2 separate regions of the Homo sapiens genome follow, and region 2 is linked to region 1. A link means that fine-mapping ties the variant in region 1 to the expression of a gene that starts in the linked region. Tissue or cell type: sigmoid colon. Region 1 holds a variant in brackets; the other region holds the start of a gene. All regions are shown on one strand. Distances are from middle to middle. Region 1 overlaps GALNT17 (polypeptide N-acetylgalactosaminyltransferase 17). Region 2 holds the start of GALNT17 (polypeptide N-acetylgalactosaminyltransferase 17).

Region 1 (8,330 bases):
TTTCTGGTATGCAGTGCTGTAGCCAACAGTGGTCATTCCTATATCTGCTTTTACAGTTTTTACTATCTATACCAGTTACTCTCAAAACTTCATGGGCATAAGAAACACCTGGGGGGGTGTCAATTGAAATACAAAATAAATAAAAAATAAAAAACCACTATCAACAACATTTGAGTCTTGCATTTTACCTGTGATATGGGTGCCTACAGACTTTATCAGTGTGCTTCTCATGGGAAGTTTTAGCACTTGAAACCCAGGGACACCATTTCTATTATCTGAGACCGCCTTGAAGGTTTCTTCCCCTTTCGATATTCCTCTCTGTTCTTTCTCACTAATTCTTGGAAAGTCATCTTCAATTCAGTTCAACAAATACCTATTGTATATTTACTATATAGTAGACACAGAGCTCAGAGCTTAAGGAATGTGAAAATGCACAAGACCTGCCCCCTGGCTACGAGGAGTTTTTTCATCTAGTAGGAGAAGCATATGTGTCTGGCTATAATACTTGGCAGAATAAAATAGCTGTGATGTTGAGTTTCGTTGAGTTTTATTTCTATTGCATAGATTGAATGTCTTCAGCTTCAGGTTGCAAATCCTGGTGACTCCAGCACAATATGTGTTATAAATAGCATTGCATCTTGACTGCAAATGAACTCAGAGAGAGAGAGAGAGAGAGACAGAGAGAGAGAGAGAGTGGGCAGGCAGGAAGATAAAAGGTTGAGCACAATTTGGGCGTTTGTTTATGTGATTGAACTACGGCTGGGGCTGGGCTAGGTGCTGTTCATGGCTGGAGGAGGCAGGTTCTTTTCCTGTATGAGATTTTTACTTTTTATTTTTATTTTTTGAGATGGAGTCTCCCTCAGTTGCCCAGGCTGGGGTACAGTGGTGCAGTCTCAGCTCACTGCAACCTCTGCCTCTTGGGTTCAAGAGATTCTCCTGCCTCAGCCTCCCGAGTGGCTAGGATTACAGGCGCCTGCCACCACGCCTGGCTAATTTTTTGTATTTTTAGTAGAAACGGGGTTTCTCCATGTTGGCCAGGCTGGTCTCGAACCCCTGACCTCAAGTGATCCACTTGCCTCGGCCTCCCAAAATGTTGGGATTATAGGCGTGAGCCACCGCGCCCGGCTTTGTATGAGATTTTGTCTTTGTGACTAAATCACTTCTTTGTGTACAAACTTACATTCTGCCCCTGAGCATGTGTGTTCATGCTTAACTGATTCAAAGACTACATTTCCCCCAACATATTACACCAAATGTACTTAACAGCAATTAGAATGTTTGCCGCCTGCTGTGTGCAGATCTCCCCAGAAAACAAAATTCTCCTAAATGGCAGTATAAGTAATTCTGAAGATTAAAGCTGGTGATTTGCAGAGTGCTTGGTTCGCTGGCTTCCTGCAAATATCAAGATTAACAAAGAAATTCATTGATCCCATTTTGCCTCCTTAATGCCTGTGCACAGGCCTAAGGGAACGCATCCCACGTGGCTGTGTGATTCAGATGAAGACTTGCTGTTGCTTTTTTTCATGGCCAAGATGCTGATTTAGTGGCATTTTTCTTGGCAAAAGTGCCCCAAGAAAACAAATCCATTTGTGTATATTTTTACGGGAAACGCTCCACCTAACCCTGCCCCGCTGAAAGCCTTCCCCGTGAGTCGTGAAGGAAACATGGCTGATTTGCTACTGTTCAAAGGGCGACTCAGGTCTTGACTGAAAGACCGTACACGGGTTGTTTGATGCTGTGTAAATCTCAGCCACGCTGAACACTCCTTTCCCCAACTCTAAATACAGGACCCCTGAACATGTTGCCCTCCACACCTTCTTCCATTTCTTTCTTTCTTTCTTTCTTTTTTTTTTTGAGGCAGAGTCTCACATTGTCACCCAGGCTGGAGTGCCGTGGCCCGATCTCAGCTGACCGCAACCTCCATCTTCTGGGTTCAAGTGATTCTCCTGCCTCAGCCTCCTGAGTAGCTGGGATTGCAGGCACGCACCACGATGCCTGGCTAATTTTTGTATTTTTAGTAGAGCCAGGGTTTCACCATGTTGGCCAGGCTGGTCTTGAACTCCTGACCTCAAGTGATCCACCCACCTCGGCCTCCCAAAGTGCTGGGATTACAGTCGTGAGCCACTGCACCTGGCCACTTTGTTCCATTTCTAATGTGTTAATGTACTCAATAAGCAATAGTTTTGGAGTGTAGATGGTGTACCCTGAAATGCACCAGGCACTGGAAAATACAGTGGTGATTGAGAGGCAAAGTCCTTACCCTCAGAGCAGAGCAATCTTTTGCAAACACACGTTGTGTCCTGGTCACTCTAGTGAGACCAGCAGCCAATGCCAGCCGCCAGTTTGGCGGCTTTCTCTGGACAGCTCCATCACCCCCATTCCCTTTGATTGAGACCTTTCTGTGTCCATGATGATCTCCCCAACTTGGAATTCTGCTCCATTCTCTGATTTCTTCATTCTCCGACTTCAAAACCAGCCTTCTTTAGTATTCCCTTCCAGCAGTTAAGTAACTTTCGTATAGCTGATATTAAAAAGAAAACCCTAGACAAATTAAATGAAACAGAGTTTAATTGAGCAAAGAAGGATTCGCAGATCGGACAGCCGCGTGGTGGATAAAGATTTAAGGACAGCAAAAGGAGAGTGGTGGACGGAAAACAGAAGCAAGGTAGAGAAGCAGCTTCTTGATTACAGCTCAGTGTTTGCCTTACTTGAGCACAGTTTGAACAGTTGGCCACCTTTGATTGGCCGAAACTCAGTGATTGGCACAAGAATAGGTGACAGTTTGTTTCCATATCCAGTAAGGTTACAGTCCACTATTTATGGAGAAACCTTGAGGTTTAACTTAAAGTATGCAAGGAGGCAGCTTTAGGCTAAACTTACATATATACATGTTTTTTTCCATAAGTTATTGGGGTACAGGTGGTATTTGGTTACATGAGTAGGTTCTTTAGTGATGATTTGGGTGCACCCATCACCCGAGCAGTATATACAGCACCCTATTTGTAGCCTTTTATCCCTCACCTCCCCTCCCACTTTTACCACCAAGTCCCCAAAGTCCATTGTATCATTCTTATTAGGCTAAACTTAATTTAACAGTAGTTAGTGGCAGGCCAGAGATTTGAAGTCAGGCCTCAGTACAGATTTGGTGTTCTGCCTTCCTCAGTTCTTGGCATGTAGGATCTTGGTGCTCCCACACAGTTTTATCTTTTCCTTCTCTGAGTGTCCTGGATGGAGTGTCTCGCTTCAGTCCTGGTTTTCACAGGACTCAGTGCCCTCCACCAATATCCTGCTGGGCCTAATTCTGCCTCTCTTCTGTGAGGTCGTTGTATGGGGTGGGATTCCCAAGGCAACATACCATTTTGCCAGGTAAATGGCATTCCTGGCAATATTCCTTTGGACCAGTGAGGAAAGTAGAACATTTTATGGGGTAGTGCAGATGTGTGACTAAATATTTTTCATTAGAACCCGTTTTCAATGACTCATTAAAGCAATTTTTAAACCCAGGCATGGAGTCAGGGAGCAAAACTGTCTTAGGGAGAAAAGAGGGAGGTATGTCAGGACACTCATTTTGAAGAAGGCATGACTTTGCCTACTAGAGCTTAGCATGCTTTCTGCTTACAATCCCACCTGCTGGCTGAGTGGAGAGCAAAATTCTTTAAAGATGTAGGAATGTAAGATGAGAGGAACTCATTTGCTGGGGCTGAATGCCAAGTGAAAATTCCGCTTCTTTAATCTACTTCCCTTCTCCTATCTTTCCCCTGCATTCCCAGATTTCTAAAAGGAATCATTTTAATACTTTTTTTTATTATTTTTATTTTGAGATGGAGTCTCACTCTGTCCCCCAGGCTGGAGTGCAGTGGCATGGTCTTGGCTCACTGCAACCTCTGCCTCCTGGGTTCAAGCGGTTCTCCTGCCTCAGCCTCCCAAGTAGCTGTGATTACAGGCC[T/C]GTGCAACACCATGCCTGGCTAACTTTTGTATTTTCAGTAGATACTGGGCTTCACCATGTTGGCCAGGCTGGTCTCACACTCCTGACCTAAAGTGATCTGCCTGCCTCAGCCTCCCAAAGCACGGGGATTACAGGCATAAGCCACCACATCCGGTCATGGAAGGAATAGTTTTTGTTTTTTTGAAACAGAGTCTCGCTCTGCTGCCAGGGTGGAGTGCAGTGGTGCGATCTCAGCTCACTGCAACCTCTGCCTCCCAGGCTCAAGCAATTCTCCTGTTTCAGCCTCCTGAATACCTGTACTACAGGCGTGCGCCACCACTCCCAGCTAATTTTTTGTAGTTTTAGTAGAGATGGGGTTTTACCATGTTGGCCAGGATGATCTCAATCTCTTGACCTGTGGTGATCCACCCGCCTCGGCTTCCCAAAGTGCTGGGATTATAGGCGTGAGCCACAGCGCCCACCCAGGAGGAATAGTTTTAATCTGTTGCATCCATCACTCCCTCCACAGCTCAGCATAGTAAGCACTGTATTGAAATGTGCAGATGTCTCCTATGATTTCCTGCCAAATTTAATAGTTTTAATAGAGTTTTAAATTCTTTTTTTTTTAATTTAAAGAAAGTATCCAAATGACAGTTGAATATGTTATTTATGAATTGTCTAGATCAGCAGTTCCCAGCCTTTTTGGTACCAGGGACTGGTTTCATGGAAGACAATTTTTCTATGAACTGGGGGTGAGGGGTGGGTTGGTTTGGGGATGATTCAAGCTCATTCCATTGATTGTGCACTTGTTTCTATTATTATTACATTGTAATATATAATAAAATAATTACACAACTCATTACAATGTAGAATCATGGGGAGCCCTGAGCTTGTTTTCCTGCAACTAGACGGTCCCATCTGGGGGTGATGGGAGACAGTGACAGATCATCAGGCATTAGATTCTCATAAGGAGCTCGCAACCTAGATCCCTCGTATGCTCAGTTCACGATAGGGCTTGCACTCTTACGAGAATCTAATGCTGCTGCTGAGCTGACAGGAGGCAGATCTCAGGTGGTCACGTGAGTAGATGGGGAGAGGCTGTAAATACAGAAGAAGTTTTGCCCACTCTCCTGACGCTCACCTCCTGCTGTGTGACCTGGATTCTAACAGGTCACAGACTGGTATTGTTCCGAGGCCTAGGGGTTGGGGACCTGTGATCTAGGTGTATACATAGAAAAAGAAACCCTCGGCTGGGCACGGTGGCTCACACCTGTACCAGCACTTTGGGAGGCCGAGGCGAGTGGATCACGAAGTCAAGAGATCGAGACCATCCTGGCCAACATAGTGAAACCCTGTCTCTATTAAAAATACAAAAATTAGCTAGGCATGGTGGCGGGCGCCTGTAATCCCAGTTACTCGGGAGGCTGAAACAGGAGAATTGCTTGAACCTGGGAAGCGGAGGTTGCAGTGAGCTGAGATCGTGCCATTGCACTCCAGCCTGGCGACAGAGCGAGACTCTGTCTCAAACAAACAAACAAACAAGAAATCCTCTTCAAGCCCCAGCCCCAGATCTCTCTCTTCTCAGCAAAGGTGACTACTGTTGGCTGTTTCTTGTGTGTCCTTCTGCTGTTTTCTTATGCATGAATATGTTAGACATGTCCATTTTTAATCTTGAAAGATTCTGCCGACTTGCTCTCTAAAGGACTCTGCCTGTTTATATGTCACCCAACAGTACATGAGTGGCCTTCCTCACACCTGACTCCCTAGGTAAGACCAGTCTTCATTTGTTTTGCCAACCTGAAGGCTAAAAAAATATTTCTTTATAGTTCTTGGATGCCTTTCTTTGACTATTACAGAGGTTGATCATCTCTTCATGTATTTATTGAATATGTGGGTTCCTTCTGTTGATTTCTGAGAGACATTTGTTCATATCACTCACTCGGACCGAGACTTTTTGTCTTTTAGTTCATGGATTTTCAATACATTTTGTTCTACCTATTGGTGAACTATGTTGTTAGGTATGTATATTCATGACTATTTAATTGTCTCAAGCAATACCTTTGATCAATAAAAAACATTCCTCTTTGACCCTGGATTCCTTCATGTCTCTTGTAAAACCACTGCCGTAATCTTATCCATCTACTTCTCTTGCCTCTCCTCATCAATACTTCTTCCTTATAGGCTTCTGAGTATCTTTGTAAAACATCAGTAGGTTCTAGCTGGGTGTTAGCCTGAGGATAAACTGATGAAGGGTATGGGACCAAAAAACATATAGGTGGAAACCCCAAATCCCAAGCGCTGGCCATGGGTTTACCTTGACATGTGTGCAGGGGAGGTGGGAAGGGGACAGTCTGGACCACTGGCATTTGGACCACACATCATAATGACAGCCGAGAAGGGAACCTATTTGGTATAGACCGAGCTTCCCTTCTGTTTGACATGTTTGTTGGTGGTTTCCAGACAAGTGTCCCTAATCTATGTGGTTGTTTGCCTTTAACAGATGGTTCCAGGTTACAGTGGGGCCCCCAATGCCTGAGGCCACCGGGAAATTGAGAAATCAGATCTAGTGAGTTGCCAATTTCTTTGACTGGTCTCACTAGCCACTGACGAGTCCACCAGCTCCTTTCAAATTTAATTTCAGGGGTCAAATGCCCCCTTCTATTTGGGGCTCTTCCTATCAGACCAAATGCCTTGTTTGTAGTTCTGATGATTTAGGCTGGAAAACACCGTTTTCTGCCAACGATGCAGTCAGCTGCATAGAACAAGCTGCCATTGTTAATTAGGTAAGTTATGTGGTCAAGGAAGTACCTTTTACTGGTGGTCTTTATTCAGAATAAGGAAGAGGGGACTTGTGATGGAGCCACACAGAGAACTAGCAGGTCACCAGCCAGAGCACTGGACCCTAGGAGAGGACTTGGGCTCTCTGAGCCAGTTCTGACTGCCCACGGAAGATGTCTCCACACATTCCCCATTGCTTGGGGCCAAAAGGCAGTGGCAGAATCTCTGGGGCCGTGGGAGGAGCCGAAGAACAGACGTGGGGAGGGGGAGGATTGTGATCTGGGGAAGAGAGCGTGCACACACGCATCTTGGTTGGACCTGAAGGGATGCTATGTTGTTCTTTGATTAACACACATGCTCTGTGTAATGTCACTTCTCTGGTCTAAAACCCTTGACACTGGGACTTCCCATGACTGGAGGATCAAGTCTGAATTTTATAAGGTGGCTTCAGAACACCTGGTACACTGCTGTCTTCTTTTCCTCGCCTCAGTCCCTTCCTGAAACATCTATTTCAGTTTCTTGGCGGTACATTGTACATTTTCTCTCCTCTGTTTTTACACATGCTATTCATTTTTTTCCTAGAGAGTTTTTCCCGTCTTCCTGTCTCCCCCTTTGCAGGCCCTCACCTGGAAATTACTTACTCATGCTTCATGACCCAGTTCAAATTTTGTCACCTCTGTGAAACCTTCCCTGGGCCCCGTTGATCTCCTTGAAGGCAGAAATAAGCTCCCAGAGCAGGATGAACAAACGTCTCTTGTCGCATTTATCCTTCCGTGTCATAATTATGATTTACATATATATTTTTTTCTTAAGGAGCTGTGAGCTTTTCCAGAATAACAGTGAGATTTTAGAAATTTCTGTATCCTCAACACTTTGCTTGCCCATAATTGATGCTCAGTGTTTGCAAATGTCACAGTTAAGCTAATGTTTCTGGGTGATATAGACATACTTGTTCTTCGGTGTGTTAAGAAGGAAGAAACAGATTTTTAAACTGATACAAGATCCATATTAAAATCAAAGGCTAGGCATGGCCCTCCATCAGTGATAAGCATTGAGGCGTATCTATACTGCCCAGTTTCCTCGGGGGTGGGGGGGGGTGTTCCTCTCTCCTAGCTTTTACCACTGAGATGAAATAAGAATCGGAATTAAATAAAGTCACCATCCTCAGCAAGAGATGAGTTTCTTCTCCAGTGATCTGATGTGGCATTTTCAGCCAGGAATGAGATATCCTGGGAGGGGAATCAGTATTTCTACAATTATAGGTTCTTCAATAAGTCCTAGAATACTAGAACTCTGTGCTCTGCACAACCTACTCTTAGTACACATGACCAGAATGCCTTTTCTCTGTTACATTGATTAATGTATTAAACCAATACTTATCAAGTATCTGGGATGAGCCTAACCTATGTCAGTAGATATATCAGCCAAAGATTAGTGGTCCCTGACCTCATGGAACCTGTAGGCTAGGGATGCAAAGGGTAAGAGTCAGGAACAAAGGCTATGGAGAGATTTATTGTTGCTACCCTGAGTTCCTGCCTCATGTATCCACTACCATTTCTATAGCTTCCTCAATAGCCCAAAGTGTGAGGAGTAAAGTTAATATGGCAGTCTCCAAGTTCGTAGGAGA
Region 2 (8,330 bases), 230 kb before region 1:
GTGCACTTGTCCCTTTCACGCCCCAGAAGCTTTTCTTTTTCTTTTCTTTCTTTCTTTTTTTTTTTTTTTTTTTGAGATGGAAACTCACTCTGTCGCCCAGGCTGGAGTGCAGTAGGGCGATCTTGGCCCACCGCAACCTCTGTCTCCTGGGTTCAAGTAATTCTTTTGCTTCAGCTTCCCTAGTAGCTGGGAGGTGTCCCACCACGCCCAGCTAATTTTTGCATTTTTAGCAGAGACAAGATTTCACCATGTTAGCCAGGCTGGTCTCGAACTCCTGACCTCAGGTGATCTGCCCACCTTGGCCTCTCAAAGTGCTGGGATTTCAGGCGTGAGCCACCTCGCTCAGCCCCTAGAAGTTTTTCTTTTCTTTCCTCTGCCTGCCTTTGAGTTTCTACCACATGCAAGGAATGATGGCTGACTCCCTTGCAATAGCAAGCTCAGAATAGACAGCCTTTGCTTGTCCTCACTTGGGTGGTCTTTGTTTATTTCCATGGTGCTTATTAGATGCCTAGCACTGAGCTAAGCAATTTACACATATTAGCTCATTTATGCTTGCAACTTCAAGAGGTAATATTATGGATATTATTCCTGTTTGACAGCTAGAAAAATAAAAATGGGTAATGCCCAGAGAAGTGAGGTAATTTGCTCAAGGTCACACAGCAGATTCAATGGTGAGGCTAGGCTGATGCATGTACAATGCCTGACACACAATACCTAGGCACTGAGCACAGTCAGCACAGCTTGGTCTCTCCCTGTTTACTTATCTCCCGTGTAAGCTCCCCACCACTGCTACACTGTGAATTCTTGAAGCGGGGAGGTAGATTCATGTCTTTTTGTTTCCTCCTTTAAAAAATCTGTAGCTGGGCGCGGTGGCTCACTCCTGTAATCCCAGCACTTTGGGAGGCTGAGGTGGGCAAATCACCTGAGGTCAGGAGTTCAAGACCAGCCTGACCAACATGGAGAAACCCTGTCTCTATAAAAAAAAAAAAATACAAAAATTAGCCTGGTGTGGTGGCATGTGCCTGTAATCTCAGCCACTCGGGATGCTGAGACAGAAGAATCGCTTGAACCTGGGAGGCGGAGGTTGTGGTGAGCCGAGATCATGCCATTGCACTCCAGCCTGGGCGACAAGAGAGAAACTCCGTCCAAAAAACAAAACAAAACAAAATAAAAAACACCCTGCAGGTAGGAGGCCATAATCCTAAGAGGATTAACGCAGGAACAGAAAACCAATTACTGCATGTTTTCACTTATAAGCGGGCACTAGACATTGAGTATGTGTGGACATCAAGATGGGGACAATGGACACTGGGGCTACTACAAGGGGGGTGGGGGGGAAATGGATTGAAAAACTACCAGCCGGGCACAGTGGCTCACTCTTGTAATCTCAGCACTTTGGGAGGCCGAGGCAGGCAGATCACCTGAGGTCAGAAGTTCGAGACCTGCCTGGCCAACATGGCGAAATCCCATCTCTATTAAAAATGCAAAAATTAGCCAGGCGTGGTGGCCCTGCCTGTAATCCCAGCTACTTGGGAGGCTGAGGCAGGAGAATCGGTTGAACCCAGGAGGTGGAGGTTGCAGTGAACCCAGATCGTGCCACTGCACTCCAGCCTGGGCAACGGCAAGACTTCTCTCAAAAAAAAAAAAAAAAGAAAGAAAGAAAGAAAGAAAACTACCTATTGGTTCTATTGGTTACTATGCTCATTAGTACCTGGGTGACAGAATCCGTACCCCAAACCTTAGCATCACACAATATACTCATGTAACAAACCTGCACGTATACCCTCTGTGTCTAAAATGAAAGTTGAAATTATAACAACCAAAACTCCAGTATCTTTTGCAATGCTCAGGGTTTTATGAGAGTGAAGGCTTTGCCTCGCGAATTCTAGCAAGAGTAAATGAGTTGGCCAAACCTCTGTAGAGAGATGAGTCCCTGGTTTCCCTTGGCGAAACTCCAAGTATTTTAACTCCTGTTATGGACTCAGATGAGATGCGATACATTTTTAACAGACAAACAAAGGGGACAGAGTCATGTCAAAGGCATATGTTATTTGAACCATGGTTGAGTGAAAAATGTATTTGAAATAAAAAATCCTTGCACAGAAATACCATTGGTCTCTTTCCTTTCAGTTTGCTCAACCAACCAACCAAAGAAACTCTTTTGATAAAGCTTTTGTAGTTAAACTGAGTTTTATGACTGGGAATGGTTTTGGGTGCCATCCAAGATAAATTTCTTCTTTTAAAGTCAAGAACAGATTTATTCTTTGGTGACCGAAATGGGACTGGAACCCAGACCTTATGGCGAGCAGACCACACAGCCACTGAAGTGTAGTTTTGTTGGTTTCAGAAGCAGCTGGTATATAATAAACGTTTAGTTGATTATGTTTTTGCATATATAACATGCTAGGCAGGTCCTTAAACTTTTAGGGTCATTGACTATGTTGAGAATCTGATGAAACTTACAGGTCTTTTCCCCAGAAAAATGTCTATGTAACATGCAGATACACTTTTTCATCTGATTGAGAGCTATTCATGAACTCCTGAAGTCTAGCTAGGGTGTCTCTAGGGAGAGGAGCTGGCTAGGGACATGGAATAGAGCTTTTCAGTAGAATCGAAGGCCCAGGTAAGGTTAGACACCACCAATTGGAAATGCCTGCAGGCTTTGAGATGATGTGGTTTTTCCCTGGGTACACTTGCTCTTGCCTTTGTCCTTGGGTTGAGAAAGAAGAAGGTGAAATTGATTCAGAGTTGGGGATTGCTAGGCTGGGGCAGTGGAAAAATATGATATACATGTGCATGATCCTTAATAGCAGGCCCTATTAGGAATGTGTTTGAAATAAATGACTAACCATGAACTCCAGAAAGAGGAGGGAAGGAACTCCAGAGGGGATAGAGAGGCATGGACACCTGGGAAGGAGAAGGAAGTTGTTGGCTGGAGAATATGTTTGTTTGGAGTTGAGAATGGGAGAGGTAAAAAGCTAGGGAACAGTAATAACAGGCTGGGATTTTAGTGCAGGATTGCAGGAGTGGAAGGCTCCTCTGTGAATACAGGGTTCAGGATGAGGCCATGACAGTGGGTCACTCATTGAGTAGTGTCCAGTGTCATTTTTGAACACAGAAGCTGCCCAGAATGCGTGCAGGAGCTGAGAGGAGGCTCCTGGAGGATGCATGATAAAGCCAAAAGTTAATTTGCATCAGGGACCTCTCTGGCTTTAGAGAAAGCACAGAAATCTCTCTGAAATTGAAATTTGCCTGGAAACTTCTCGATTACTCTGAGGCTGTTTCCTCTACTTTGTTTCCTGTCTTCCACTCCCAAATATGCACACGCTTGAGAGTCAGCCTCAAGCACATACTTAGAGCCACTTACTGCTTCTCGGGCACCCTAGCCCAATGCCTCAGCCTCCCTGGCTTCAGTCCTGCGGCTGAGTGAATGTTCAAAAATTATTTTTGCAGAAGCTTCCATTGATTGTGCTAGCTCCATCTGTAGTGTGGTTATAATAACACCCAACTCAACTGGATACTCCATGAGATGCTCAGTAACCCAAGTTTCTTCCCACACAGCCTCTCTCTTGCCTAACATGTGTGGCTAAAAATCATCCCTTGGGCCTTTTTAACTGTTTTGTGTCCACTTTCAGGTAGATTTTACAAAGCATGCGCCCTGAGGACCCGATTGCACCCAGGCAGAGAATTCCAAGGGAATGAAATAAAAAGACTATTTTTTTGCATATACATTTCTATGTTAAAAATCAAAACTTAAAATAATACACAGGCAAAAACAAAACAAGAAACCAAGCCCCAGAAAAAACCAAAACAACCGCAAAAACAAAAACAAAAACTTTAATGAGATCAAAATGATGAGGGGAAAACGATCAGCTCCATTTAGCTTTGCTGCCCGATTTTTATTAGTTGGCGGCCTGATTTCTATTTTAGACCCAAGGAATTAAATGGATCAACCGGGGTGGGGGGGCGTTGAATTCCAGTATTTCGAGTTCCTGGGTTTTGGGAAGAGGAAGAGGTAGTGGAAAACCAGGAGCCAAATGAATATGCTTCTTATAATAAAATTTGAACAGAGCAGCGGGTGGGCCTAGAAGCAGTGACTGGGGAGGTTAGAATTCTTGCACGCAGAGAACCCCCCCAAGCCCGCTCACGCCCGGCCTGGCTCCGAAGGTCTCAGAATCCGAGCCTCCAGGCCAGATTTTCCCTCTAGCCATTCCTGGCCACGCAGCGCGGAGCCGCGAGCACACAGAAAAGGATGTCTTCATCGCCAACCGGGATGGAACGAACCCGCCCGCTCAGGGAGTACTGAGAACTAAAGGGTCCCTCCAGCGCCGGCCGCAGCCAGCATGCCTTGACTGCCTCCATCCCGCGCGGTCCCCACTCTCCAGAAGCCCCCGCCCTGCCCGGGTGCGCGCGCGCACGAGTCGGCGAACCGGGGAGCTGTGCGCTCGGCAGCCTGCGGGCGGCGGCGGCGGCCGCCGACAGCCTCTCGGGGACAGGGTGGCGAAGAGCGGCGGAGGAGGAGCTGGCGCCGCCGCCGCTCCCCTCGGGCCGCGCCCCGCCCTCCGCCGCCACCTGCGCGTCCCCTCCGGGCTCCTCAGCTCCGGGGCTGTGTGGCTCTCGGTGCCGCAGCGGCGGTGTCACCGCGTCCGCCAATTGGGAGACTCGGCGTTTTGGCTCCCGGGGGCGCGGGACGAGCCGCGCGGCCGGATCTGGCGAGCGGAGGGTGATTCGGCACGCGTACCTCCCCGCCGCGCTGCCCGCGACGTTTTGGGAGGGGGTAGAGAACTGCTGTGACTTTTGAGGTCCGACTCCTTCCGGCCAGCCTCGCGACGCGCCAGCTCCGAGACAGGCCGGTGTGCCCTGAAGGCCCCGAAGGCTCTCGGCGCGGTTTGGGGGCTTGGAACGTGTCCGGGAGCCGGCGGCGCTGTGAGCGCTGGTGAGTTTGCCGGCGGGGTGGGGTGGACTCCGCGCGGGGGGCGGAGAGGACGTAGCGCTCGGCCCGGCGCCCGCCCCCTAGTGCTGCCCCCACTTTGAGAGTAATTGAGACTTGAGCGTGACTGCGGAGCCTGGAGGATGCGGGCTCCCCGAGCGGGCTTCCCCTCTGCCCGGCGCGATGGAGCGGGTCGGTGAGCGGAACAAAGGCGCCTGCCCGGGGGAGCGGGTCTTCCGCTGAAGAGCGCGGGTGGCGCGCCGCGACGGCCGCCTGCGGGCCAAGGTGGGAGGCTGTGCGGCCCCAGGCGCGGCGCGCTCCGCCGTGGGCGGGCGGCGATCCCTGAGTCCGGCACCTGTGCGCCGCTCCCTCTGTGCCTCCCGGGCAGCCCCGCCTGCCGGCCTCGGAGTCCGCGGCGCCGGCGGCTAGAGGTCCAGAGGCGAACCACTTGCTGGTGCAGAAGAGAAACCCTCAAATCCCTGGCCTTTCGCGGAGACGCCTGGACGGGGCCGTGCGCCGTGGACTGAGCAGGCGTCTCGGGGAGCACTTCTGCAGAGCGAGGACTTCCATGTGAGCGATTCCGTTCTCCCCACCACCAATCCGACCTCCCAGCCGTCTCCGCCGCCCGAGCATCCTTGAGGTGGGACGAGCAGGGGCTTGGATCCCTGCCGGCCGTCTGGTGTGTGAGGCTTGCACGGCCCCTGGCTGCCCCGCGCCTCGCCGGAGCCCGAGGGGGCGCAGGTCCGGGGCGAGGGCCGGCCGGGCTGTTTGATGGCTTCACTGAGAAGAGTCAAAGTGCTGTTGGTGTTGAACTTGATCGCGGTAGCCGGCTTCGTGCTCTTCCTGGCCAAGTGCCGGCCCATCGCGGTGCGCAGCGGAGACGCCTTCCACGAGATCCGGCCGCGCGCCGAGGTGGCCAACCTCAGCGCGCACAGCGCCAGCCCCATCCAGGATGCGGTCCTGAAGCGCCTGTCGCTGCTGGAGGACATCGTGTACCGGCAGCTGAATGGTAAGGACGCACGCCGGCGCCTCCGGGGCTCGACGCGGGCGGGCCGGGCACAGGGTGAGCCCCAGGGTCCTTGCGCGCTGCGCCCTGTGCCTGGGAGCCGGCACACCCTGGCTCCCGCGCGCTCCTTCTTACCCTTCCTGCCCCGTTTCGGGCAGATGGCCGGGGCTGCTGGAAAGAACAACTTGCCTGATTCTTTTCTGTGCCCCACCTGCAAATTTGGTTTTATCCTGGAAACATGTCAGTACAGTTGGCTCCCGGTCCCCGCGTGCGGACTGGAAATCATTCCCTGGCGACTCCAGCCCGAGCGCAGAAACTAGTGGAGGGGCCACATGGGACTGGAGGCGCGCGGGCAGACGTGTAGGAGGAAATAGTCTTAGAGCCCAGCGTTTGGTGGGGTACCAGTAGGGAACCTGGGAGATTGGAGGGCTTGGATGTCTGCAGACAAAGTCAAGGCCCCAGGTCGCGGAGCTAATGCGCTTAGGTAGTATATGGGAGGAATATGTCATCTGTCTATGAGGCGAGCTGCTCAGCTAAGAATGAGGACTCCTCCCTTCCTGCCGCCTGTGTTTCTCCTTGGGGGCTGCGGAGGGGCGATTGTTAAAGCTCAGGGTGGGCCTGCGAAGTTTCCAGAATGTAGCACAGAGAGATGTGGCATCCCATTAGTGACAGTTGTCTGAATCTGTCCCATCTAAAATGTTGTGCTCAGTACTTCAGGAGAAGAGGGAGACTTTTTATGTGCTCTTGTCACACCTGGGCCAGGTCATTGGACACTAGCTGTCCCCAACGTCAGAGTGAGTGTTACCTACCTGAGTACAGGCAGGTTTCCAGGATGCGTGGGGTTATCCAAGGCAGATACGTACTTAGGTACAGACTACCTCCTCCCTTTCTGAGCTTGTAACTCATGTTCTCAAACGAACTGCAGATAATCACGAAGATCGTGATAATAATAACTGATGGAATTCTTGCTCTGTGCCAGATGCGTGCAAAGACATTACAAGTACATTATCTCACTGTATGTTCACATCTGTCCAGCGAGGCTCCACCCATCCACAGAGGGGAAATGAGAAGACTAAGCGAGGGGAGGTTAACTAAGTTGCCCTGTGTTAAATAAGATATAACTGCGCCCCAAACCTCTGTAATCGGAATAATAATAGAGTCTGGAGTCAGAACCCTGTGTCTGGTTGACCACAGAGCCTGTGCGCTTGACCTCTTAGGCTCAAACTTCTATCCATGGTTTTCCCCTAAGTGAAAGGAGTATTAGGTTTGTTGAAAACAGAAATATGTGGAATTGCAAATACAGACATATACCTTCTCACATTGGAGGATCTCAACTGTCTTCACTGTGGTGGCAAGGGGCAGGGAGAAGGAGGATGGCAAATGGTTCTTTTCAGGCTCACCAAAGGTCCCTGCTGGGTACTGGGGGAGGGATGGGATGGAGGGAGAGGGGTGGTCAGATCTCTGAGCAGGTGAAAGGACGCTGCGGTCTTCTCGAAGCCATTTGACAGATATCCAGGGGATGCCTTGAACTTGCAGGGTATATGGCCTGACTGTCAGGGTAGCCCACGGAAGTTATGCAGAAGCTCTTCTCTCAGGTGTCAGAAATATGGCACAGAATGCGACAAAAACCCATAGTTCATTTCTGGAGGAATCAGAAACTTACGGGGTGGCCTTATAATTTGGGATAGATTCCTGCTGTAGACATACCCATAGGAACTTCAAAGGTTAACCTGGTTTCCCTCATCAGGCTTTTCTCAGGGACACAGGTTAGTTTAGTATCAGTTTCTTTGTTTTATGGTTTTTTTTTTTTTTTTTTTTTTTTTTTTTTTGAGACAGGGTCTTCTCGCTCTGTCCCCCTGGCTGGAGTGCAGTGGTGCAATCATAGCTCACTGAAGCTTCAAACTCCTGGGCTCAAGTCATTCTCTGGCCTTAGCCTCCCAAGTAGCTGGGTCTACAAGTGTGCATCACCATGCCCTTCTAATTTTTTAATTTTTTGTAGACACAGGGTCTTGCTAGGTTGTCCAGGCTGGTCTCGAATTCCTGGCTTCAAGCAATCCTCCTGCCTGGGCCTCCCAAAGTGTTGGGATGACAGGCGTGAGCCACCATGCCTGGCCCCAGTATTAGTTTCAATTAGGAGCATTAAATATTATATAGCTGTACCCTAACTTCCCTCATAGGAATAATAAAATTCTATAATAATAACTGATGGAATTCTTGCTGTGTGCCAGATGTGTGCAGAGACATTACAAGTGCATTATCTCACTGTATGTTCACATCTGTCCAGAGAGGCTCCACCCATCCCCAGTTGAGAAATGAGAAAACTAGGTGAAGGGAGGTTAGGAGGCTACTTTCTACTTGCCACAGACATACATGAACCCACTGAATCTTTACAAT

Evidence for each region. PIP is the estimated chance that this variant, and not a neighbour inherited with it, causes the effect.
Region 2: GALNT17 starts here. The variant in region 1 is fine-mapped to the expression of GALNT17 in sigmoid colon (GTEx, PIP 0.96).

The regions. Positions count from the first base shown.
Region 1 is chr7:71,361,131-71,369,460 of GRCh38, forward strand. All of the region lies in intron 2 of GALNT17 (polypeptide N-acetylgalactosaminyltransferase 17), which reads left to right. Among named protein-coding and RNA genes, the nearest start is that of MIR3914-1, 58 kb to the left of the region's middle. The variant T/C (reference allele first, on the strand shown) is at 3,947.
Region 2 is chr7:71,127,102-71,135,431 of GRCh38, forward strand. GALNT17 (polypeptide N-acetylgalactosaminyltransferase 17) reads left to right here and starts at 5,043. Exons shown (of 11, transcript NM_022479.3): 1 at 5,043-5,939. The coding sequence starts at 5,702.